Homo sapiens: one gene and its partners. Each later gene encodes a partner of the first gene's protein in a complex. Each region holds a gene or a part of one and is shown in the gene's direction. Other genes may lie near its edges. The genes, in order: LSM3, TXNL4A, SNRPF, SART1, PRPF31, PRPF3 and SNRNP40.

Evidence for each region.
Region 2: LSM3 (region 1) and TXNL4A share a complex: the UniProt entries of both Homo sapiens proteins name them as parts of the precatalytic spliceosome.
Region 3: LSM3 (region 1) and SNRPF share a complex: the UniProt entries of both Homo sapiens proteins name them as parts of the U4/U6-U5 tri-snRNP complex.
Region 4: LSM3 (region 1) and SART1 share a complex: the UniProt entries of both Homo sapiens proteins name them as parts of the U4/U6-U5 tri-snRNP complex.
Region 5: LSM3 (region 1) and PRPF31 share a complex: the UniProt entries of both Homo sapiens proteins name them as parts of the U4/U6-U5 tri-snRNP complex.
Region 6: LSM3 (region 1) and PRPF3 share a complex: the UniProt entries of both Homo sapiens proteins name them as parts of the precatalytic spliceosome.
Region 7: LSM3 (region 1) and SNRNP40 share a complex: the UniProt entries of both Homo sapiens proteins name them as parts of the U4/U6-U5 tri-snRNP complex.

Annotation. Positions count from the first base shown.
Region 1 is NC_000003.12:14,181,817-14,185,316, forward strand, and holds part of LSM3 (U6 snRNA-associated Sm-like protein LSm3), read left to right. Parts: intron 1-2,120; coding exon 2,121-2,216; intron 2,217-3,500. UniProt on the Homo sapiens protein: Plays a role in pre-mRNA splicing as component of the U4/U6-U5 tri-snRNP complex that is involved in spliceosome assembly, and as component of the precatalytic spliceosome (spliceosome B complex).
Region 2 is NC_000018.10:79,982,064-79,985,563, reverse strand, and holds part of TXNL4A (thioredoxin-like protein 4A), read left to right. Parts: intron 1-3,500. UniProt on the Homo sapiens protein: Plays a role in pre-mRNA splicing as component of the U5 snRNP and U4/U6-U5 tri-snRNP complexes that are involved in spliceosome assembly, and as component of the precatalytic spliceosome (spliceosome B complex).
Region 3 is NC_000012.12:95,861,952-95,864,295, forward strand, and holds part of SNRPF (small nuclear ribonucleoprotein F), read left to right. Parts: intron 1-2,344. UniProt on the Homo sapiens protein: Plays a role in pre-mRNA splicing as a core component of the spliceosomal U1, U2, U4 and U5 small nuclear ribonucleoproteins (snRNPs), the building blocks of the spliceosome.
Region 4 is NC_000011.10:65,971,734-65,975,233, forward strand, and holds part of SART1 (U4/U6.U5 tri-snRNP-associated protein 1), read left to right. Parts: intron 1-3,500. UniProt on the Homo sapiens protein: Plays a role in mRNA splicing as a component of the U4/U6-U5 tri-snRNP, one of the building blocks of the spliceosome. May also bind to DNA.
Region 5 is NC_000019.10:54,128,984-54,132,213, forward strand, and holds the end of PRPF31 (U4/U6 small nuclear ribonucleoprotein Prp31), read left to right. Parts: intron 1-73; coding exon 74-202; intron 203-288; coding exon 289-387; intron 388-2,323; coding exon 2,324-2,449; 3' UTR 2,450-2,730; downstream 2,731-3,230. UniProt on the Homo sapiens protein: Involved in pre-mRNA splicing as component of the spliceosome. Required for the assembly of the U4/U5/U6 tri-snRNP complex, one of the building blocks of the spliceosome.
Region 6 is NC_000001.11:150,338,533-150,342,032, forward strand, and holds part of PRPF3 (U4/U6 small nuclear ribonucleoprotein Prp3), read left to right. Parts: intron 1-1,865; coding exon 1,866-1,945; intron 1,946-3,497; coding exon of another isoform or gene 3,498-3,500. UniProt on the Homo sapiens protein: Plays a role in pre-mRNA splicing as component of the U4/U6-U5 tri-snRNP complex that is involved in spliceosome assembly, and as component of the precatalytic spliceosome (spliceosome B complex).
Region 7 is NC_000001.11:31,269,289-31,272,788, reverse strand, and holds part of SNRNP40 (U5 small nuclear ribonucleoprotein 40 kDa protein), read left to right. Parts: intron 1-1,289; coding exon 1,290-1,410; intron 1,411-3,500. UniProt on the Homo sapiens protein: Required for pre-mRNA splicing as component of the activated spliceosome. Component of the U5 small nuclear ribonucleoprotein (snRNP) complex and the U4/U6-U5 tri-snRNP complex, building blocks of the spliceosome.

The DNA of each region.
Region 1 (3,500 bases):
GGCATGTATTCACATTTTTAACATTTTTTCTTTTAATAGAAATACGTTTATTATAGAACATTTTTATTCCCTTCATTTTTCCCTTCTGTTTATTTGTAAATAATATTTACTTGTCCTCCATTCGTAAATGTTTTTTAAATTTAAAACACAAATATGTGTTTTATTAGGAAAAGTTAAACAGCACAAAAATATATAGAGTAAAAAGTGAAATCCCATTTCTTCTACTGGTAATCACTACTAAAAATGGGATTATCTTGGCCAGGTGCAGTGGCTCATTCCTGTAATCTCAGCACTTTGGGAGACTGGGGCAGGAGGATCACTTGAGGCCAGGAGTTCTCTGTGTTGCCAGCCTGGGCAACATAGAGAGACCCTGTCTCTACAAAAAATAAAATTTAAAAATTGGGTTACCTTTTCTGTATGTTTACACATATACACTCATATATGTACATGTGCACATACTTGCATTATGTACACCCTACCTCTACAAAACATGGATCTTGCCATACATGTTTTTCAGTACCTTTTTTTTTTTTCACTTAATCTTTCTTGGAAATTGATCATGAGTGCATTTAATTTTCGTTTATTCTTTTTAATGACTACCTAGGATTCTGTATATGATAGTGATCGATTTTTTTTCATTTCTTGCTACAAATACGTAAATACTTGCAGTAAGCATTTTTTTACATATTTCTTTGTGCATATCTGCAAAATATCTGTAGAATTGGTCCCTTGAAATAATCCCATTTGTTCATAGAGAACCCTGAAGGTTTTGCCTCTCCTTAATGACTTGTTACTTTCCTAAGTGTGTTGTTTTTAGTATTGCTACTCTACCCTAAAGTGATTAAAAATAGCTAACATTTATTGAGCATTAATTATAGACCAGGTACTATTATTCTAAGCATTTTGTGTGTGATATCTCATTTAATCTTTATAACAACCCTATGATGATACATACTAATTATTCCTGCTTTGCAGTGTAGGAAGCTCAGGCTCAGAAAGGTACAGTCACTTGACGGTAAAGGGAGAGCCAGAATTTGAATCTAGGTTGTCTGACCTGAGCCCCACTCTTAAGTACTGTGGTTCCGCCTTCCACAAAACCTAAAGATAAAGAACCTCTGGGCTTGGAAAGGAAATAGGGACCCAGGGAGACAATCTACAGCTGGCCTTAAAGGAAGAGAGACTCCAGGAAAGGAATGGTGGTAACTTTGGGAATACAAATGGAATTGAGTTTAATTACTTAAGTTTGTGGCTCTTGGAGGCTTCTTCAGTTCCCTGTGTAAACTTGATGGTCTCTATCCTAAATGGCCCCAACTTTCTGTTTGTTTTGTGCCTCTCAGCTATACATGTTTGATCTTGTTAGTGTGCCCTGCTTAGCAGTTCCCCACATGGCTGACAAGTGACTTTTATTTTGATGTGAGCAGGTGAACCATGTAACACGTTGTTAGAAGTAAACTTGAGTTCTGAACAAGGTCCCAGAAAGTGCACCTTTTAGTAAAATGAATGAACTTTGGAGCTTGGATTGAATATCTTAGCTGTAACATTTATTGATTGAGCCCACAGGTACTAAACACATTTAAGTTCTGGATAGGTTAGAAATGGGCAGGGTGTTGCTCTACTTACTTTCTCTCTGCGACATGTGGTCTACTGTGTGCCTTTAGAAGACTGCAATGGCATTATCTTACCAGTAAACAAAGGATTTTATCTTCTTTACTGTATTTTTCTTGTCAGATTGTTATAGGTGAAATTGAAGGATGTCTACTGATAAATGATGAAGATGAATCTGCTGTTTTTCATAATTAAATATTATAAATGATGTGACTGCCTTAGATAACAAGTGGGGTGGAGACTTTAAAAATAATTTCAAGTGATTTGAAGTAAATTTATTTTTGGCAATATAAGCAGTTTTATATTTTTATCAGGTCAATTAAGTAATCATTGGAAGTGACTTGTGAAGAAACAGTATATTAGTACTGTAGGATTACTTTTTATTTGCATGTAAAAGTTTGTGATGTAAGTATCAAATGCCCTAGTTGTAATTGAGCAATTTGCATATTGTTAAGCCTTTATCATTTTTGTAATTTGATTATTAAATTTCTTGGTTCTGTACCCTCCCACTTTAGGCTTATGATCAACATTTAAATATGATCTTGGGAGATGTGGAAGAAACTGTGACTACTATAGAAATTGATGAAGAAACATATGAAGAGATATATAAAGTAAGTCATGCAATTCTATTCATTGCTTTGCAAATATCAGCTGTTCTCTCTCGAACAGCTTAACCCATATTTATGGGAAGCCTGTCATGTTTTGACACCTACTTATGGACTCAGTAGAGCATAGCAATTAAAAGCAAGGGTTCTGGCATCTGACAGACCCTGTTGCCAGTACTGGCTTGACCACTTCCTACTTGGGCTACCTTGGGCAAGGGAATTAAGTTAGCTGAGTTCTCATTGGTGAGCAGGAATACTACCACTTACCTCATAGGGTTCCCAGATTCAGTGAGATACAACAATGCAAGGTGGCTATGTATAATAGTGTGTAACAGTAATAGTGGACAGTGTTCTTTCGTTTTCTGTGGATTTGATCTATTAATACTTAATTTATTAGAAACTGAAACTGAAAAATTTTTTAAATATTTATTCATTAAAAAAACCTGGGCCGGGCGCGGTGGCTCACGCCTGTAATCCCAGCACTTTGGGAGGCCGAGGCGGGCGGATCACGAGGTCAGGAGATCGAGACCATCCCGGCTAAAAAAACGGTGAAACCCCGTCTCTACTAAAAATACAAAAAATTAGCCGGGCGTAGTGGCGGGCGCCTGTAGTCCCAGCTACTTGGGAGGCTGAGGCAGGAGAATGGCGTGAACCCGGGAGGCGGAGCTTGCAGTGAGCCGAGATCCCGCCACTGCACTCCAGCCTGGGCGACAGAGCGAGACTCCGTCTCAAAAAAAAAAAAAACCTGGCCAGGCATGGTGGCTCACACCTGTAATCCTAGCACTTTGGGAGGCTGAGGCAGGTGGATCACCTGAGGTCAGGAGTTCGAGACCAGCCTGACCAATATGGTGAAGCCCTGTCTCTGCTAAAAATACAAAAAATTAGCTGGGTGTGGTGGCATATATCTATAATCCCAGCTACTTGGGAGGCTGAGGCAGGAGAACTGCTTGAATCTTGGAGGCGGAGGTTGCAGTGAGCTGAGATTGTGCCATTGCCCTCCAGCCTTGTCAACAAGAGTGAAACGCTGTCTCAAAAAAAAAAAGGCTGGGTGCAGTGGCTCATGCCTGCAATCCCACCACTTTGGGAGGCCAAAGCGGGTGGATCACCTGAGGTCAGGAGTTCGAGACCACCCTGGCCAACATGGCAAAACCCTGTCTCTACTAAAAATACAAAATATTAGCCGGCCGTGGCGGCAGGCACTGGCAATCCCAGCTACTCGGGAGGCTGAGGCAGGAGAATCACTTGAACCTGGGAGGTAGAGGTTGCGGTAAGCTGAGATCGTGCTACTGT
Region 2 (3,500 bases), on another chromosome or scaffold:
ATAAAGTTTTCATCTGGGCACTGTGTCTCACGCCTGTGGTCCCAGCATTTTGGGAGGCCGAGGTGGGTGGTTCCCTTGAGCCCAGGAGTTCGAGAACAGCCCGGGCAACATGGTGAAACCTTGTCTGTACAAAAAATGCAAACATTAGCTAGGCGTTGTGGCATGTGCCTGTGGTCCCAACTACTTGGTAGGCCGAGGTGGGAGGATATGAGTCCAGGAGTTCAAGGCTGTGACAAGCCGTGATCGCGCCACTGCATGCCAGCCTGGGTGACAGAGCGAGACCCTGTCTCAAAAAAAAAAAGTTTTCTATTTAGCAGCTGATTTTATGCAGTTTTGAAGCGAGACAATTTCATGTACGAGCTGTCTTTCCATTTTGTAGGAACACTGTCACAGGAGACAATTTCATGGACCTTTGAGCTGTCTTTCCATTTTGTAGGAACACCATCACAGGAGACAATTTCATGTACCTTTGAGCTATCTTTCCATTTTGTAGGAACACCGTCACAGGAGACAATTTCATGGACCTTTGAGCTGTCTTTCCATTTTGTGGGAACGCCGTCACAGGAGACAATTTCATGTGCCTTTGAGCTGTCTTTCTATTTTGTAGGAACGCTCTCAGAGGGGACAATTTCATGTGCCTTTGAGCTGTCTTTCCATTTTGTAGGAACACTCACAGCAGTGCTTGGGGTTCACTGTTACCTAAATCCCATGATGGGTGAGAAGACTGAATGGGACGTTTATTTTTTGTGTTAAAAAGCCCACGCAAATAGAGTTTAAAATAGTCTCAGTGAGCTGGGCATTGTAGCATGTGCCTGTAACCCCACTACTCAGGAGGCTAAGACAGAGTATGAGCTCAGGAGGTCAAGGCTGCAGTAAGCTATCATCGTGCCGTTGCACTCCACCCTGGGTGATAGAGCGAGACCCCATCTCTAAAAACAAAACAAAAAAATTCCTCAGTAATATTATTGACTCATGATAGTACATTTTTTTTGTTTGTTTGAGACAAGAGTCTTCTTGTGTTGTCCAGGCTAGAGTGCAGTGGCACGATCTTGGCTCACTGCAACCTCAGCCTCCTGAGTAGCTGGGACTACAGGCCTGCACCACCACCACACCCTGCTAATTTTTGTATTTTTGGTAGAGATGTGGTTTTGCCATATTGGCCGGCTGGTCTCAAACTCCTGTCCTCAAGTGAGCCAGTCACCTCAGCCTCCCAAAATTCTGGGATTACAAGTGTGAGCCACCATGCCTGGCCCATGATAGTACATTCTAATAAATTGTGTGTAAGGCAGATATATATTTATGGAACTTCATAGGAGCCATATTAAGGGGTGTATCTTAAGTATCACATTAAGGATCACAGAACGCCTACTGAACCAGTGAGAGTCAACACTCAGCTAGATGAGGAATCTTGTAGAAACAAACAGAATGGATATTTTTGGTGTTTCCTCTGGATTTTTGTCTCTGGAAAAAAAACAGCCTTGTAGCTAGCCACAAGGTATGAGGGGTGATGTTGAGCCGTGGTTGAGGGTGCAGACTCTAGCCACAAGGTATGAGGGGTGGTGTTGAGTGGCGGTTGAGGGTGCAGACTCTAGCCACAAGGTATGAGGAGTGGTGTTGAGCGGCGGTTGAGGGTGCAGACTCTAGCTAGGCTCTTGGCACTTCATAACTGCATGAGCGTTACGAACTTGGCCCCGTGGGTCATCTTACCTGTAAAAAGGGCATACTTGTGCCTCACTCATAGGGTTGTGGTGGGATTAATAAAGGTTTCTAGAGCACTCCTGTCACATGGGCAGTAATGCCACTGTTATTACTGTGATTACTTCTCTCACATTACTAAGTTTGCAAGTTATTGTGAGAGCTGATTAAGGCAAACATTAATTTTAGAAAGTCAAGTTTTTCAGTTTTTTTTATGGCTTTGACATGAATTACCTAAAAATGTAAAAATAAACACTTCAAAAATTTGTTGTGCTAATCAACTGCCCAGAACACTTTTTCCGGAATTTTAGGTGTTTTCTTAGCTGGTTGAGGGACTCCATACAAAAGTGTAGAACAGTGGTTGGTATCATGTGCCAGTTTGGTCATGTGTTTTGCAGAGTTATGTCATTGTAACTTGGCAGGTGGACTTAGAGGCATGCGGAAGAACTGCTGAGCACTTTAATTGCTGACTTGCCTAAAGAAAAAGCATGCTTATGAGGTGTATAGGCAACAGAGTTGGAAAAGATACTTACAATTCAAGGCAATCAAAGAATTTAAAAACAATTTGAGGCCAGCGCCGTGGCTTAAACCTGTAATTCCAGCAGTTTGGGAAGCCGAGGCAGGCGAATCATCTGAGGTCAAGAGTTCGAGACCAGCTTGGCCAACATGTTGAAACCCCATCTCTACTAAAAATACAAAACTTAGCCAGATGTGGTGGTGGGCGCTTGTAATCCCAGCTACTCGGGAGGCTGAGGTGGGAGGATCTCTTGAGGCTGGGAAACAGAGGTTGCAGTGAGCCGAGATCACGCCACTCTGCTCCAGCCTGGGTGACAAAGTGAGATCCCATCTAAAAAAGAAAAGAAAAAGCTGCCTTTGTTGAGGAAGTCACAGGATGACTTGGCAGAGCAGTGTGGCTGCACTCACCCAGCTCCTCCTCCAAGCGCTTGGTTACCGTGGAAATGTCGCCACCAGCAGATGCTGCTGGATGTTTGCTGATGTTTGCCCTCAGCTCATGCTCCTCCAGTCACCCCACAGATGCCATTTCACCAAGAAAATGGGGTGGTGGGAGGCTGGGGAGCTCCCCTCTGCCTGCCTCTTTCAGCCTCTCCTATCTGAACTCCCAAGTCCCACAGTAACTTCCCTCTCTCTCCATAGCCACGGCTTTTGAAAGTTGTCCACACTGAAGTCCTCTGTTCCTCAGTCCTTCAGCCCCTGCAGTGTCCCCGTTCCCATATCGTCCTTTCTGGTAACCTCTCTGGGGCACTCGGCACAGCTCCCCGGAGTCTCCTGCCTTGGTTTCTGAGACTGCCTCCTTGGCATCCCTTTCCTGCCCCCAACTCTACAGTGGGCTTCTGCACTCACTCCCAAGCCTGGCACCTGCCACCCTGGCTGGGATCACTGCTGGATGTAGGTGGCGGCAGTAAGGTAGCTCTCTCCAGCCCAGACTCCATTGTACAGCTCCAGGCCAGTCGCTACCTGGAGGGCCTTTTTCTCTGGATGTCCCTTAGTTTTCTCAAACTCAGTATATACAAAACTGAACTCTTCAATTCCTGCTTTCTTAGAAATAAATACATGGCCCAGAATCCCAAGTGGAAAAGGTCCTCTGTGGGCCAGTCCACCTGCGCATCGGTCCCCACTGTCCTGCACTTCTGCTTCCTTGCCCTGGTGCTGGATCTGAGACCTGGCTGCTGGTCTTGTGTCTTTCTCTTTACACATGGAATTCTCTAAGGACAGATATTTCCCTGCCACCCCGTGACCACACTGCCGCCCCGTCTCCTGTGGGTTAGGCTGATTCTGTCATCCAG
Region 3 (2,344 bases), on another chromosome or scaffold:
AAATTTTTTGCCCATTAAACAATAATTTTCCATTAAACAATAATTTTACAATTAAACATTAAACAATAATTTTCCATTCCTTCCTCCACCTAACTAACCCCTGGTAACCACTAGTCTACATGTCTATGAATTTGACCGTGCATAATACCTCATGTAAGTGGAATTGTGTATTATCCTTTTGTGTCTGGCTTGTTTGACTTAACGTAGTGTATTATTCAAGGTTCATCCATGTTGTAGCATGTGTCAGAATTTCCTTTTTATGACTGAATAATATTCCATTATATGGATATACCACATTCTAATCCATTTGCCTCTTGGTGGACACTGGGTTGCTTCCCTCTTTGGACTGTAGTAAATAATGCTGCTGTGAACATGGGTATACGAATGTCTGTTCCAGTCACTGCTTTCAGCTCTTTGGGGTATATACCCAGAAGTGGAATTACTGGATTACTGGTAATTCTATGTTTAATTTTTTAAGGAGGCCAAGCGTGGTGGCTCATGCCTGTAATCCCAGCACTTTGGGAGGCTGAGGCAGCAGATTGCTTGAGCCCAGGAGTTTGAGACCAGCCTGGGCAACATAGTGAAACTGCATCTCTACAAAAAAAATACAAAAACTAGCTAGGCATGATGGTGTGGGCAGCTATATTCCCAGCTACTCAGGAAGCTGAGTTGGGAGGATTACCTGAGCCTGGGGAGGTTGAAGCTGCAGTGAGCTGTGATCACTGCACTCTAGCCTGGATGACAGAGAAATTTTTTTTTTTCTTTTGAGTAACTGTCACACTATTTTCCACAGCAGCTACGTGGTTTTACATACCCACCAGCAATGCACAACGGTTCCAGTTTCTCCACATCCTCACCAACACTTGTTATTTTCTATGGGTGTTTATAAAATAGTTATTCTAATGGGTGTGAAGTGGTATCTTATTGTGGTTTTGATTTGCATTTGGCTAATGATGTTGAGCACCTTTTCATGTGTTTATTGGCCATTTGTTTATCTTTGGAGAAATGCCTGTTCATGTCTTTTGCACATTTAAAAAATTAGTTTGGGATTTTTTGTTGTTTTTTTAATGGTAGTAGTTTCCAGGCAGGTTTTTAAAGGCTATCAAGACAGGTGGTCAATCCAATCATGAATCCAAGGATTCCATACTTGTAAGCAGAGTACTAAAAGGAGTACTTAAGTAGGCAGAGAGCTATGATTTTCCTTAACTTAGGCAATTACCACCTGAGCACATGACATTAAGGCCCCCAAAGCATAGTTTGAGTGTGGAAAATTCCTTAAACAGGAGTCATTTACCAAGACCATAGAAAAATCTGGGAAGTATATGAATTGTGATGAAAATATTCTGGAAGTAGTGGTGATAGTTGCACAGGTTTTTGAATATACTGAAAACCACTGAATTGTACACTTTAAAAGGGTGAATTTTATGCTATGGAAATTAACATCTCAATAATAAAAGAATTACCACTTAATATTTGTTTTAGAATTAATATAGCTTGCTAGTGACCCTGCTAGAGTTGCAAAATGTCTGAGTAACCAACCACTTTGAGTAGTCAACCATATTGATACCAGTGTTTGAATTTGTTCACTCAGCAAATATTTATTGAATTCCATTATGTGCCTGGCACTGTGAATATAGCATTGAACAAAACAAAGTCCCTGCCCTCAACAGTTTATGGTTTAGTGGTGGGAGGTGGTAATATAATGTGATAATAGGCATGATAGATGCCATCCATGAAGAAAAGGGGGAAGACAGTATGTGCAATATTATATAGAGTAGCCTCTCTGAGGAGGCGAATTCTGGAAGATACCAGAATTAGTGTACAACTCAGTTGAGTATCTGGGGAAAAGCATCCCAGTTTGAGGGAACAGCAAGTACAAAGGCCCTGTGGCAGAAGCATGCTTGGTGTGTTCAAGGCACAGCAAAAAGGCCAGAGCAGATTGAGTTAAGGGACGAATGACAGAAAGTTAGGTTAAAATGGCGGCCATAGAGAGCCTGTTAAGTGATGGTGAAGAACATGATAGAAAGTATTTGGAACATTATTGTGTAATTTAGAAATGTTAAATGTTGTAATTACTTTTTACAAAAAATTAGTTGCTCTTAATACATTATTTCTTATAGCTGTTACATACAAACTGTCTCAACAACCTCGTATATTTCAGACAAAACTATATCATCTGGATAATGGAGATTACTTTTTGTTGTCTATAAGAAAGGGAGTAACATCCAGTAGTAGTGTTCATTACCATGTTTTTCATGCCTTATGAAACATCCTATTTTAATCCTTATTGTTAAGCCCTATTTTTCTTTTCCTTTTCCACGTGCCTAATTGTGAAGGAAACCTC
Region 4 (3,500 bases), on another chromosome or scaffold:
TTTCACAAAGGAGAGGTTCTGTTGATTTCCCCCTGAGTCTAAACTGGGTAATGAGGGACATAACAGAGAATGATGGGTGTGAGGACAGGGCCTGGAGTCGTGATGTGGTTGAAGAATTACTGGATTGAAGTTAATACAGTCAATGAGCTAGAAAGAAAGGCTGGAGAGAACAGAAAGGATCCTTGGAATTGAGGGGTTGTTTTGTTTTGTGATAGTGTCTCACTTTGTCACCCAGGCTGGGGTGCAGTGACTCTATCTCAGCTCACTGCAATTTCCACCTCCTAAAGGTGCTCTGTCCACATACAGTCATTGGGGGTTAGGGCTTCCCGATATGAATTTAGGGGTTACACAATTCCTAGATAGGACAATATATTGTCAAGATGTCCATCTCATGTAGTTCATTTCTAGGTTAAATGCAACTCCAGTAAAAATCCCAATAGGGATTATTTTGGAAGCTGGAAAATGATTCTGAAATTGGATAAAGTAGGGGCATTGTGGCAGTGTGGGATTGCATAAGGATAGACTAACAGAACAGAGAGACCAGACAGCGGGGCCCCGAGACAGAATCGTGTCCCAGTGGGAAGAGTCGCTCGTCAGTGCAGCGAGTGGGCGTGGGACAGTCAGTTATCTATTTGGGGAAAAAATGAAATTGGGTTTATACCTCACACCTTGCAGATAGATTAAGAACTTCAAAGTAAAAACTTCACATTTCGGAATCAAATTAAGGAAATTACATTTATAACTTTTTGGTAGAAAAGATTTTTTAAGTTGTCAGCATAGCCAAGGCAGGAGAATTGCTTGAGGCCAGGAATTTGAGACCAGCCTGGGGCAACACAGCAAGACCACCCCCCCTACCAACCCCATCTCTAAAAATGTTTTTTTAATTAGCTGGGCATGGTAGCATGTGTCTGAAGCCTCAGCTACGCCGGAGGCTAAGGCAGGAGGATTGCTTGAATCTAGGAGTTCGAGGTTATAGTCAGCTATGATAGACTATAGCTGACTATATCACAGATAGCTATGATAGCCTGGGTGATAGAACAAGATCCTGTCTCAAAAAAAAAAAAAAACCAAGAAACCCACAGGTTCCATGGGTGAGTTTCTTCAAGAAACCATGAAGAAAAAAGTGAACGTGTAACTACATAGAAATTGAGAACGTGGCCGGGCGCGATGGCTCACGCCTGTAATCCCAGCACTTTGGGAGGCCAAGGCGGGCGGATCACGAGGTCAGGAGATGAGACCATCCTGGTCAACACAGTGAAACCCTGTCTCTACTAAAAAAAATACAAAAAAATTAACCAGACGTGGTGGCGGGCACCTGTAGTCCCAGCTACTAGGGAGGCTGAGGCAGGAGAATGGTGTGAACCCAGGAGGCGGAGCTTGCAGTGAGCCGAGATCGCACCACTGCACTCCAGCCTGGGTGACAGAGCAAGACTCCGTCTCAAAAAAAAAGAAATTGAGAACGTAAGTTTTTTGTTTTTTGTTTTTTTACAAAACATACCATGAAGAATATAAAAAGGCAGACCAAAAAGAGAAGATATTTGCCCATATATACCACCAAGAATGGGTTGGTGTCAAGAGTATACAAACAGACAAAACAAATCAACACAACAGGAAAATAGGCGAAAGATGTAGATAAGACAGGCAGTTCACAGAAGAGAAAGCCTAACTCACCAGGAAAATACCCGGTGAATCCAGTTTCAGGAGGGATCACAGAAAGGTGAACCAAAACAGTGAGGCACCTGCCACCTGCCAACAATTCCGCAGAAAGGTCCAAGCCTGACAGTAGCGAGTAGGAGTAAAGGACATGGAGCGGCCAGAGTCCTCAGCCACGCTACTCACAGCCATGGGCAGGAGTCTAATCAGATGAGAGGGAATGTGTGCGTGCCCGGGGCCCACCCCACACCTCTCCCGAGTGTGCCCATGTGCACCAGGAGACATTGTCAGTGGGCCTGCAGCCGCAGTACTTGGGACAAAAAAAGTCCATCCTCAGTGGGCTAGAGAGCCAGATCAAGGAGCATCCAGCTCACGGGCTGTGATTCCATAGTGGAAACTGATGAGCTACAGCCGTGTGCATCAGGGTTACTCTCAGGGGCACAGATTTTTTTACAAAACAAATCACAGAAGAGTCATACAGTGTGACTCAGGTTATAGAATAATTAATACACAACAAAATAACTGTTCAGGGGCAGGTCCTTATGTGCTAAAGCCATGAAGACAAGCCGGTGAGTCATGACCATGGATGGGGAGGGGACACTCAAGTCTGGGCAGGGCATTAGTGATGCTGCCCCAGCCCCAGGGAGAGGGACATGGGTGTGTGTTTAGTTAATGTTTTAAAAACTATATCAGCCGCTGGGTGCGGTGGCTCACACCTGTAATATCAGCACTTTGGGAGGCCTAGGCAGGTGGATCACAAGATCAGGAGATTGAGACCATCCTGGCTAACATGGTGAAACCCCCTCTCTACTAAAAAAAAAAAAAAAAAAAAAAAAAATTAGCCGAGCATGGTGGTGCATGCCTGTAATCCCAGCTACTCAGGAGGCTGAGGCAGGAGAATCACTTGAACCCGAGAGGTGGAGGTTGCAGTGAGCCAAGATCGTGCCACTTCACTCCAGCCTGGCCAACAGTGAGACTCTGTCTCAAAAAAAAAAAAAAAAAAAACCATATCAGCCGGGTGTGGTGGTTCACACCTATAGTCCCAGCACTTTGGGAGGCTGAGGTGAGTGGATCACTTGAAGCTGGTTTTGGGACCAGCCTGGGCAACATGGTGAAACCCTGTCTCTACTAAAAATACAAAAATTAGCTGGTTGTGGAGGCATGCACCTGTAGTCCCAGCTACTTAGGAGGCTGAGGGAGGAGGATCACTTGAACCTGGGAGGTGGAGGTTGCAGTGAGCCTATATCGCCCCATTGCACTCCAGCATGGGTGATAGAGTGAGATGGTCTCAATAAATAAGTAGCATATGATGCATTAGATATACCTCGTTTTATGTTTACAATGTTCATTAAAAAATAAGTGTTCCTGGCCAGGCGCGGTGGCTCACGTCTGTAACCCCAACACTTTGGGAGGCCAAGGCAGGCAAATCACGAGGTCAGGAGATGGAGACCATCCAGGCTAGTACGGTGAAACCCCATCTCTACTGAAAAAAAATACAAAAAAATTAGCTGGGCGTGGTGGCGGGCGCCTGTAGTCCCAGCTACTCGGGAGGCTGAGGCAGGAGAATGCTGTGAACCCAGGAGGCGGAGCTTGCAGTGAGCTGAGATCGCGCCACTGCACTCCAGCCTGGGCGACAAAGTGAGACTCTGTCTCAAAAAGAAATAAAAATTAAAAGACAAACAAACAAACAAATGTTCCTGGATGTCCTGGAAGACTTTTTTTTTTTTTTTTTTTGGAGACAGGGTATTGCTCTGTTGCCCAGGCTTGAGTGCAGTGGCAAGATCACGGCTCACCATAGCCTCGGCCTCCAGGCTCAAGCAATCCACCCACCCCAGCCTCCCAAGTAG
Region 5 (3,230 bases), on another chromosome or scaffold:
TGGAGGGGGTGCCTCGGTGGCTGGAGGGCAGGGCCTGGTCGCTGAACTGCAGGGCGCCTCCTCTCCCCCCTAGATCGAGGAGGACGCCTACCAGGAGGACCTGGGATTCAGCCTGGGCCACCTGGGCAAGTCGGGCAGTGGGCGTGTGCGGCAGACACAGGTAAACGAGGCCACCAAGGCCAGGATCTCCAAGACGCTGCAGGTATGGGCCAGACCCAGGTGGGGCTGGGGACCGAGGGACACAAGGTGGGGGGAGCCCAGATCGCAGCCTCCCTGTCCTCCCCACAGCGGACCCTGCAGAAGCAGAGCGTCGTATATGGCGGGAAGTCCACCATCCGCGACCGCTCCTCGGGCACGGCCTCCAGCGTGGCCTTCACCCCACTCCAGGTACCTCCCCTGGGCCGGCTCTGTCCCCAGCCCTGAGACCTTGGCAAGGCCCCTTGCCCTCTGCCCCTGTGAAGAAGGCCAGGATGAGTCTCCTCATGGGGCTGTTGTGGAGGGTGTGGTGACGAGGTATGCAGAGGACGTAGACAGCTCCTGGCACACAGGAAGAGGTTAGCAGAGACGAGAGCCCAGCGCTGAGCAGTCCTCGTGAGCACGCACTGCTTTAGAACCAGGCCCACAGCTGTGTTCAGGGCACCCAGTTCCTCTGTCGGGCTGTGAGCGGGTAACACTGCTCAGCCTCCAGGCCCTCCAGTTCAAAACGGCCAGGACGGTTAAGGTAACCTCAGGACCCCACTCGAGAAAGTTCCCGGCTAGGCGGGCTTGGATGTCAAGTGTGGGTCCAGGCCCCAGCCAGTCAGCAGTGAGCAGCGTGGAGCATGGCAGTCACCGCATCGTCGGAGCCTCGGTTTACCATCCACAGAGCAGGGCGAGCCTGCACCACGGAGGCGAGACAGCAGCGAGCTCATCTGCCCAGTCAGCGGGTGTCTACGCAGCACCTGCTGAGTTCTGTCAGTGTTCCCGGCTCTGGGGATGAAGCAACGAATGAGAGACAAGTCTTACCTTCTTGGAGCCAGTGGGTGGCCGGGCGCAGACAGCTCAGTAAGATGTCCAGTGTAGGAGAAGGCAGAAATGCCAGGCCGGGCGCAGACAGCTCAGTAAGATGTCCAGTGTAGGAGAAGGCAGAAATGCCAGGCCGGGCGCAGACAGCTCAGTAAGATGTCCAGTGTAGGAGAAGGCAGAAATGCCAGGCCGGGCGCAGACAGCTCAGTAAGATGTCCAGTGTAGGAGAAGGCAGAAATGCCAGGCTGGGCGCAGACAGCTCAGTAAGATGTCCAGTGTAGGAGAAGGCAGAAATGCCAGGCCGGGCGCAGACAGCTCAGTAAGATGCCCAGTGTAGTAGAAGGCAGAAATGCCAGGCCGGGCGCGGTGGCTCACGCCTGTAATCCCAGCACTTTGGGAGGCCGAGGCAGGTGGATCATGAGGTCAGGAGATCGAGACCATCCTGGCTAACACGGTGAAACCCCGTCTCTACTAAAAATACAAAAACTTAGCCGGGCGTGGTGGCGGGCGCCTGTAGTCCCAGCTACTTGGGAGGCTGAGGCAGGAGAATGGCGTGAACCCGGGAGGCGGAGCTTGCAGTGAGCCGAGATCGCGCCACTGCACTTCAGCCTGGGCGACAGAGCCAGACTCTGTCTCAAAAAAAAAAAAAAGAAGGCAGAAATGCCAGGGAGGGGAGGAGGTGGAAGGTAGGAGGTGGGACAGGGGAGGCTCTCGTTTCGGAGCAGCCAGGGAGGGCCTCTTTGAGAAGATGAGGCCAGTGGCTGTGCCTTTCCAAGCCTCCCCTCCTCCATCATGAGGTGCTCAGGACTGAAAAGAACGCACAGGAAGCACTTGGCACTGGGCTCACCATTAGAGCCCAATGACTGGGTCCTGTTATTATTTTTAGAGACGGGGGCTCGCTCTGTTGCCTTGAAAATATTTAGGAAGTGCCAGCCAGGTGTTGGCTCCCATTGCTGCCACTATGATCGTCAGTGGTGTTGGTGTGATTTGTGCTAGGACCTCGGGCCAGCCATGTCCCCCAGGGACTCAGTTTCCTTATGCAGAAACTGGGCAGGATTGGCTGTCCTCAAGCATTGGTTGTTTTTAGCACCCCTGAGGAACTTCGTACAAATCCAGGCGCCCTGGTTCCTCCCCACCCTCTCCCTCTAGACCCACTGAGTCAGAATCTCCCAAGACAGGGCAACTCCAGGGACAGGCAAACTGTCTCATGCCCACCAAGGCCTGAGTGCCATGGGGAAGGGCCTGGGGGGCTCTGATGGGTCACAGTTGGGGCCTTCTCCTCACCTAACCCATCATCCTCTCTCCCTCACCTGCCCAGGGCCTGGAGATTGTGAACCCACAGGCGGCAGAGAAGAAGGTGGCTGAGGCCAACCAGAAGTATTTCTCCAGCATGGCTGAGTTCCTCAAGGTCAAGGGCGAGAAGAGTGGCCTTATGTCCACCTGAATGACTGCGTGTGTCCAAGGTGGCTTCCCACTGAAGGGACACAGAGGTCCAGTCCTTCTGAAGGGCTAGGATCGGGTTCTGGCAGGGAGAACCTGCCCTGCCACTGGCCCCATTGCTGGGACTGCCCAGGGAGGAGGCCTTGGAAGAGTCCGGCCTGGCCTCCCCCAGGACCGAGATCACCGCCCAGTATGGGCTAGAGCAGGTCTTCATCATGCCTTGTCTTTTTTAACTGAGAAAGGAGATTTTTTGAAAAGAGTACAATTAAAAGGACATTGTCAAGATCTGTCCTTGGGGAGTGATCATTTTTCAAACAGCCGGGGCAACTAGAAGAATCAGAGCTGTGGAGCTTTGAGAAAAGAGCTTGGCCCTCGGGTCCAAGCGGTGTCTAGGCCCACTCCCTTCCCCGTTACTTTCTCGTCATGGGATCCCAGAAGGAAAAAGCCCTCTCCAACCCCCTGGAGAGCCGCAGTCACTTTGATAGCAAATGATGTGGCTGCCAACAGCCGCAGATCTCAGCGCAGGCCGACCGGGATTGCTGTCCACCTCAGGCCAGCCTCCTCACCTTTCCAAGCCTCCACACCTACGCCCAGGTGCCCAGGACTGGAAAGAATGCACAGAAAGCACTTAGCATGGGACTTGCCATCAGCGCCCTATAACCAGGTCCTGTTATGATTGGGTTTTTTAGAGACGGGGTCTCTGTTGCCCAGGTTGGAGTACAGTGATGCGATGAAGCTCACTAAAGCCTCAAACTCCTGGGCTGGGATTACAGGCATGAACCAGC
Region 6 (3,500 bases), on another chromosome or scaffold:
CTCTGTCACCCAGGCTGGAGTGCAGTGGCACGATCTCAGCTCACTGCAACCTCCACCTCCCGGGTTCAAGAGATTCTCCTTGAATTCTCCTTGAATCTCAGCCCCTCAAGTAGCTGGGACTACAGGTGTGTGCCACCATGCCCATCTGCTTTTTGTATTTTTGATAGAGACAGGGTTTTGCCATGTTGGCCAGGCTGGTCTCGAACTCCTGACCTCAGGTGATCCGCCCACCTTAGCCTCCCAAAGTGCTGGGATTACAGGCGTGAGCCACTGCACCTGGCCAAGCTCCTGCATTTGTAAGTGATGTATCATATATATAGGCTGTTTTTAGCTTTTGGGGTTAATGTAGGATAACCAGGGACACAATCTACAAAAGCAAAGTCTAGAATTCTTTTTGCTCTGTTACACATTGTTGCCTGTTTTTAGCATTATTTTCCTTAATTACATTCTTTTGCTACGTATTATAGGTGTTTACATTTCCTAAAGATCTCATTGTGATAGAGCAAGGATTATTAGTTGGTAGGTGAGATAATAGTAAATATAGCATATAAGGCTGGGCTCGGTGGCTGACACCTGTTATTCCAGCACTTTGGGAGGCTGAGGGCTGAAGGATTGCTTGAGCCCAGGAGTTAAAGACCAGCTTGGGCAATATGGTGAGACCTCGTTTCTACAAAGATTAAAAAAAAAAAAAAAGTAGCTGGGCATGGTGGCTTGTGCCTGTAGTCCTGGCTACCCAGGAGGCTGATGTGAGAGAATCACTTGAGCCCAGGAGGGTCTGTGCTGCAGTCAGCTATGATCATGACCACTGCACTCTATCCTGGACAACAGGGTGAAACTCTGTCTCAAAAAAAAAAAGGATATAAGACACATTTGAAGAGCTTTAAATATATCTGCTCCATCCATTTTTTTTTTTTTTTTCCTGAGACGGAGTTTCGCTCTTGTTGCCCAGGCTGGAGTGCAGTGGAGCAATCTTGGTTCACCACAGCCTCCGCCTCCTGGGTTCAAGTGATTCTCCTGCCTCAGCCTCCCAAGTAGCTGAGATTATAGGCATGCACCACCACGCCTGGCTAATTTTTGGTGTTTTTAGTAGAGACGAGGTTTCTCCATGTTGGTCAGGCTGGTCCCAAATTCCCGACCTCAGGTGATCCACCCGCCTCAGCCTCCCAAAGGGCTGGGATTACAGGCATGAGCCACCACGCCTGGCGTTTTTTTTTTTTTTTTTTTTTTTTAAGACAGAGTCTCACTCTGTTGCACAATCTCGGCTCGCTGCAACCTCTGTCTCCTGGGTTGAAGCAGTTCTTCTAGCTCAGCCTCATAAGTATCCGGGACTACAGGCAAATACCACCACACCTGGCCAGTTTTTATATTTTTAGTAGACAAGAGTTTCACTATTTGGCCAAACTGGTCTCAAACTCCTGACCTCAGGTGATCCACCTGCCTTCATCTCCCAAAGTGCTGGGATTATAGGCATAAGCCACATCACCTGGCCCTGCTCCATCATTCTGATACATGGCTTTAGTAGATTTTGTCTTAGCCTTTCGTTGCCCCTTCTTTGTCAGCCACTGTTCCAGGGACTTATTGTCACTAATGAGAGAACATAGCGTCTGTCAGCTGTGGCATGGTAGAAAAAAGGTTGAGAATGATTGCTGTGGAGAGTGTGTTCAACCATAGAGGGACTCAGTTTTCTCATCATGAAAATTATGTGTAATTTAACTATATATTTTAGGTACCTAAATGCTATTTTAGGTATATCAAGCACAAGAACCCATTATAGAGAGTGGGTTTTTTCATTGTATTTCTGAGACTCCTCTCTTAGAATCATCTCTACCCGCATATCGTGTTTTCTTTTCTTCCTACAATTTTAGTACAGAGGAAAATCCCAAGAGAGAAGATTATTTTGGAATCACAAATCTTGTTGAACATCCAGCCCAGCTCAATCCTCCAGGTAATGTATAGATTCCTGAATCAAGTCTCTAGAGCAGCATTACCCATTGGAAATTTATACAGTGAGGAACATGTTCTGTATCTATGCTGTTCAATACAATAGCCACTACCCATGTGTAATTCTTTTTTTTAATTCAGTTTTTTTCCTGACAATAGTTTGTTGTTTGACCAGTGAACATACATTTTAAGTGCATATTCCTGTGCTTAGAATTTCATGAGACAGCCAAGCATGGTGGCTCATGCCTCTAATCCAAACACTTTCGGAGGCCAAGGCAGGAGGATTGCTTGAGGCCAAGAATTCAAGACCAGTCTGGGCAACACAGTGAGACCCATCTCAAGGAAAAAAAATTTGGCTGGGTATGGTGGCTTATGCCTGTAATCACTGCACTTTGGGAGGCTGAGGTGGGCAGATTGCTTGAGCTCAGGAGTTCGAGATCTAGGCAACATGGCAAAACCCCATCTCTACAAAAAATAAAAAATCAGCCGGGCATGGTGGTGTGCATCTGTAGTCCCAGCCTCTTGGGAGGCTGAGGTGTGGAGGATGGCTTGAGCCTGGGAGGTGGAAGTTGCAGTGAGCTGAGATGGTGCTGCTGCACTCCAGCCTGGATGATACTGCCAGACCTTGTCTCAAAAAAAAAAAAAAAAAAAAAAGAAGAAAGAAAGAAAGAAAAAAACCCAAAATTTCATGAAGCTTTACATTTACAGTTCCCTGGTTGTTCCTAGGAAAGAGCCCTCAGCTTGCTCCTTTTATAGAACCACATGTTGTTGTGGCATCCACAGCTAAATGCAAATGCAAGAGCCAAACTCTTGGGTTGGTGTGTTATTAGATGCGATATGCTCCACTACCCACTGTGAGGGATGCTAATTCCAAAGGGCTTTTTGTTAGTTTCCCAAAGTTGAAACTGGGAAACAAAGTTGCTTCTATTTTTTTTTTTTTTTTTTTTTTGAGGAGGAGTTTCGCTCTTGTGGTCCAGGCTGCAGTGCAACGGCATGATCTCAGCTCACCACAACCTCTGCCTCCTGGGTTCAAGCAATTCTCCTGCCTCAGCCTCCTGAGTAGCTGGGATTACAGGCATGTGCCACCACGCCCAGCTAATTTTGTATTTTTAGTAGAGACAGGGTTTCACCATGTTTGGTCAGGCTGGTCTTGAACTCCTGACCTCAGGTGATCTGCCAGCCTTGGCCTCCCAAAGTGCTGGGATTATAGGTGTGAGCCACCGCGCCCGGCCTTTTTTTTTTTTTTGAGTTGGAGTTTCGCTTTTGTCACCCAGGCTGGAGTGCAATGGCACTATCTCCGTTCACTGCAACTTTCACCCCCCTGGGTTGAAGCTATTCTCCGGCCTTAGCCTCCGGAGTAGCTTGGATTATAGGTGCCTGCCACCACACCTGGCTAGTTTTTGAACTTTTAGTAGAGACAGGGTTTTGCCATGTTGGTCATGCTTGTCTTGAACTCCTGACCTCAAGTGATCTGCCCACCTAGGCTTCCCAAAGTGCTGGGTTTACCGGCGTGAGCCACCGCACCTGGCCCTAATTTTGTTTTCTACATTTGCCAGGTA
Region 7 (3,500 bases), on another chromosome or scaffold:
GTAAAGATAAATACTGTTTTGTATTTTCCTTTTTTGCTTAATAGCTTATTATGTAAATATTTTTACATTTGGTCTTCTGAGTTATTTTTAGGAACTGCTTAACAATAGCTACACATTATTGAGGACCTGTCTTGTGCCCGGCATATGCTAAGCATTCTTATAATCCTTACAACAGCCGTAAGAAGTAGCTATTGTTATCCCTAATCTTACAGACCAGGAAACAGGCCCAGAAAGAATTAGTGACCCAATGACACATAACTCTAAGTGGCAAGGAACAGTTTATTCTTACCCTAAGTCACCACTCTTTCTACTCTGTCATGCTATCTCCTGTATGAGAATTCAGTTTTGCAATGTGCTTATGAACCATAATTTAATAAACCACCTATTTTTCCTGCTTGACGTTTAGGTTATTTTCTGTATCTTACGTTTCCTATACAAGCAATAGTGAACCTGTAATTTATTTTTATTTTAATAAATGTGCTTTTCCATAGTGTATGTGCATGTACATATCCATACATGTACATATATATACATTTATTGTCACATATTGTTACATTAAAAGAAAAATTTTAAGCATCTGTATTTTTCATATTGTTACACAAACATGTAATCATAATGCCTTTTTTAAATGACATGTTCGTTTTATGTATTTATAATAATTTTTAATGGCTAAGAATCATAGCCATTTTTAGTTTTTTTCTATAATAGTTTTTCTTTGCTATGATTTGAAAATAACCTTTCTGAATTCTATTTTTTTGTGTGTAAAACTTTATCTTAACATTTGATATGCATTCGTTTATATTTATCTAGTCAAACGTGGTAGCCTGAGCTACCTTTTTAGAAAGACAGAGATTGGCCAGGCATAGTGGCTCATGCGTGTTAATCCAAATACTGAGAGGATGAGGTGGGAGGATTGCTTGAGCTCGGGAGTTCAAGACTAGCCTGGGCAACATGGTGAAACCTGTCTCTTCAGAAAAATTAGCTGGGTATAGTAGCATGCTCCTGTAGTCCCAGCTACTGGGGAGGCTTAGATGGGAGAATCACCTGAGCCCGGGAAGTCAAGGCTACAGCGAGCCATGATAGTGCCACTGCACTGGGCAACAGAGTGAGACGCTGTCTCAAAAAAAAAATGAAAATTAAAAAAAGGTGTTTTTCTCTTTGACAGAAATCCTGTGTTTTATAGTAGAGTAATATCAGTGTCTCTGGGCAATTGACTCTTGTCTCTTGTGTCATTCTCTTTCTCTGCTTTTATTAATTTGATTTCTGGGGGCACCTTTCTGTTTTTGCAGGTCTGGGACCTGCGCCAGAACAAGCTAACCTACACCATGAGAGGCCATGCAGATTCAGTGACTGGCCTGAGTTTAAGTTCTGAAGGCTCTTATCTTTTGTCCAATGCAATGGACAATACAGGTAACTTTGGAAAGGAAATCTCTCCCAGGATCCAAGGAAAAAGTCAAAGATTGCTCACAGATTCCATCAGACGATTAGAATGTGTTGTAATGGGGAAAGCTTTAGGTGAGATAGTCAAGAATCTAGGACTGTAGTCTCAGATCTCTGTCTTGTCCCTGAACAACTTTGCACACAGCATTTCTTCTCTCTAGGCATCAGTTTCTACATTGATAAGAAGATTGGACTTTACCTTTAAGACCCATCTCAGCTCTGGTATGCTGTGTATCCAACAGGATATTAGAAACTCTAGGTGATGAGTTTAATGAAAAAGATGTGAATCTAGAAGTCTATTCAAGGCAGTTCTTGTGCGTTTTCAGAGAGCACCAAGCTTGGATGATCTCTTCTGCTCTTTCCTGCCAGTCTGTCTTCCCTCCCCACTCTGAAAGCATTGGTGTGGGAAGAGGTCTTCATTAAAACATTCTGGATTTACACGAACACACTCTTGCTCTTTCTCTTTACTTGTTTTTGAGTTGTAGGGTGGGAGGATGGGTTACTACAGAAAAAAAGTAAGGTGACTTGCTGGATTATATGCTTAATGTTGAGGGAGTTTGGAAATGGCCCTGGTATACAAAATTATAGGCTTGTCAGGAACTAAAATGTATTCCCTGACATTTTGTAACAAAAACAATACCTGACATTCATTGGGTACTTAATAAATATTTGTTGAATTAATGGACATCTTTACCTTTTAACTATATTCTCAATGGCAAACTTTCACGCATAGCTTTGCCTTTTTATGCCTGTCTGACTCCAAGGATTGATAATACTTTTTTCATACTCAAATAAAATGACATCACTGAAATTCCACTATAGGTATAGCTTCAGTTACAACGGCTATAGCTACTGCTTACAATAGATGTTTATACACATTTAATCTAGCATTAAAAAAATATTTTTTCCTTAATTTTTTTGATAAGACAGGATCTTGCTGTGTTGCCCAGGCTGGTCTCAAACTCCTGGGCCCAGGCAAGCCTCCCAAGTACCATGCCTAGCTAATTCTAGCGTTCTTTATGAGGAACAATGAGGTTTCCTAGATTGATACTAAAATAAGGAAAAAATAATAGAATAATTTCTTGTGGCTGCATAATACAATTACAAATTCTTTATTTTTGTTTGTTGCCTACAAATTTTAGAACCTTTGCACATATATCATCTCATTGGATCTTTAAAATAGTGTTATTGGCTGGGCAGGGTAGATCACCTGAGGTCAGGAGTTTGAGACCAGCCTGGCCAATGTGGTGAAACCCCATCTCTACTAAAAATACAAAAATTAGCCAGGTGTGGTGGTGGGCACCTGTAATCCCAGCTACTTGGGAGGCTGAGGCAGGAGAATCACTTGAATCTGGGAGGCGGAGGTTGCAGTGAGCCGAGATCACGCCACTGCACTCCAGGCTAGGCAACAAGAGCGAAACTCCATCTCAATCATATCAGTCAATAATATTATTTTAAAAAGAAGACAGATAATTTTCTCTTCATTTTACAGAACAGAAAAACCAAGACACAAACAATCTCACTGTTTACCTGACATCACCCAAATATGTAACAGAGATAGAATCAATGTTTACTTTTTCTGATTTTTGGTATGGTACAGTGCTTTTTTGATTTATTTGACCTTTTATATATTTTATATATATCTGACCTTGTCCAGTCTTAGACTATCAGGTGCCCATATGAGGGAAATTAGGAAAGGGCGATGTAAGTTTGGCTTTTATAAGTTCATTGTCACAGTAGTTCCTGGTATTTAGTTTGTCACATTGAAGCTTTGCTGGATGTGACTAAGCTGGCAGAGAAATCTTGCAAAATATCTTTTTGAAATTAGTATCACACCCAACTGCATTCTGTTGCAAATTACCAACATTGTGTGTGACATTTTTCCTTCCTGCCCCCTCAGCTAGCCCCAGTTATTGGGATTTAGATGTGTTTTCCTGCTTGAAAAAGAAAAGAGCCTTAACAGGTAGCAGTATGTCAAGTTGGACTTTGCCCACCGAGGAAACAGCATCTGCCATTGATTGACATGATACTAATTTCAGCTGGGTGCCCAGGAGGCCTCT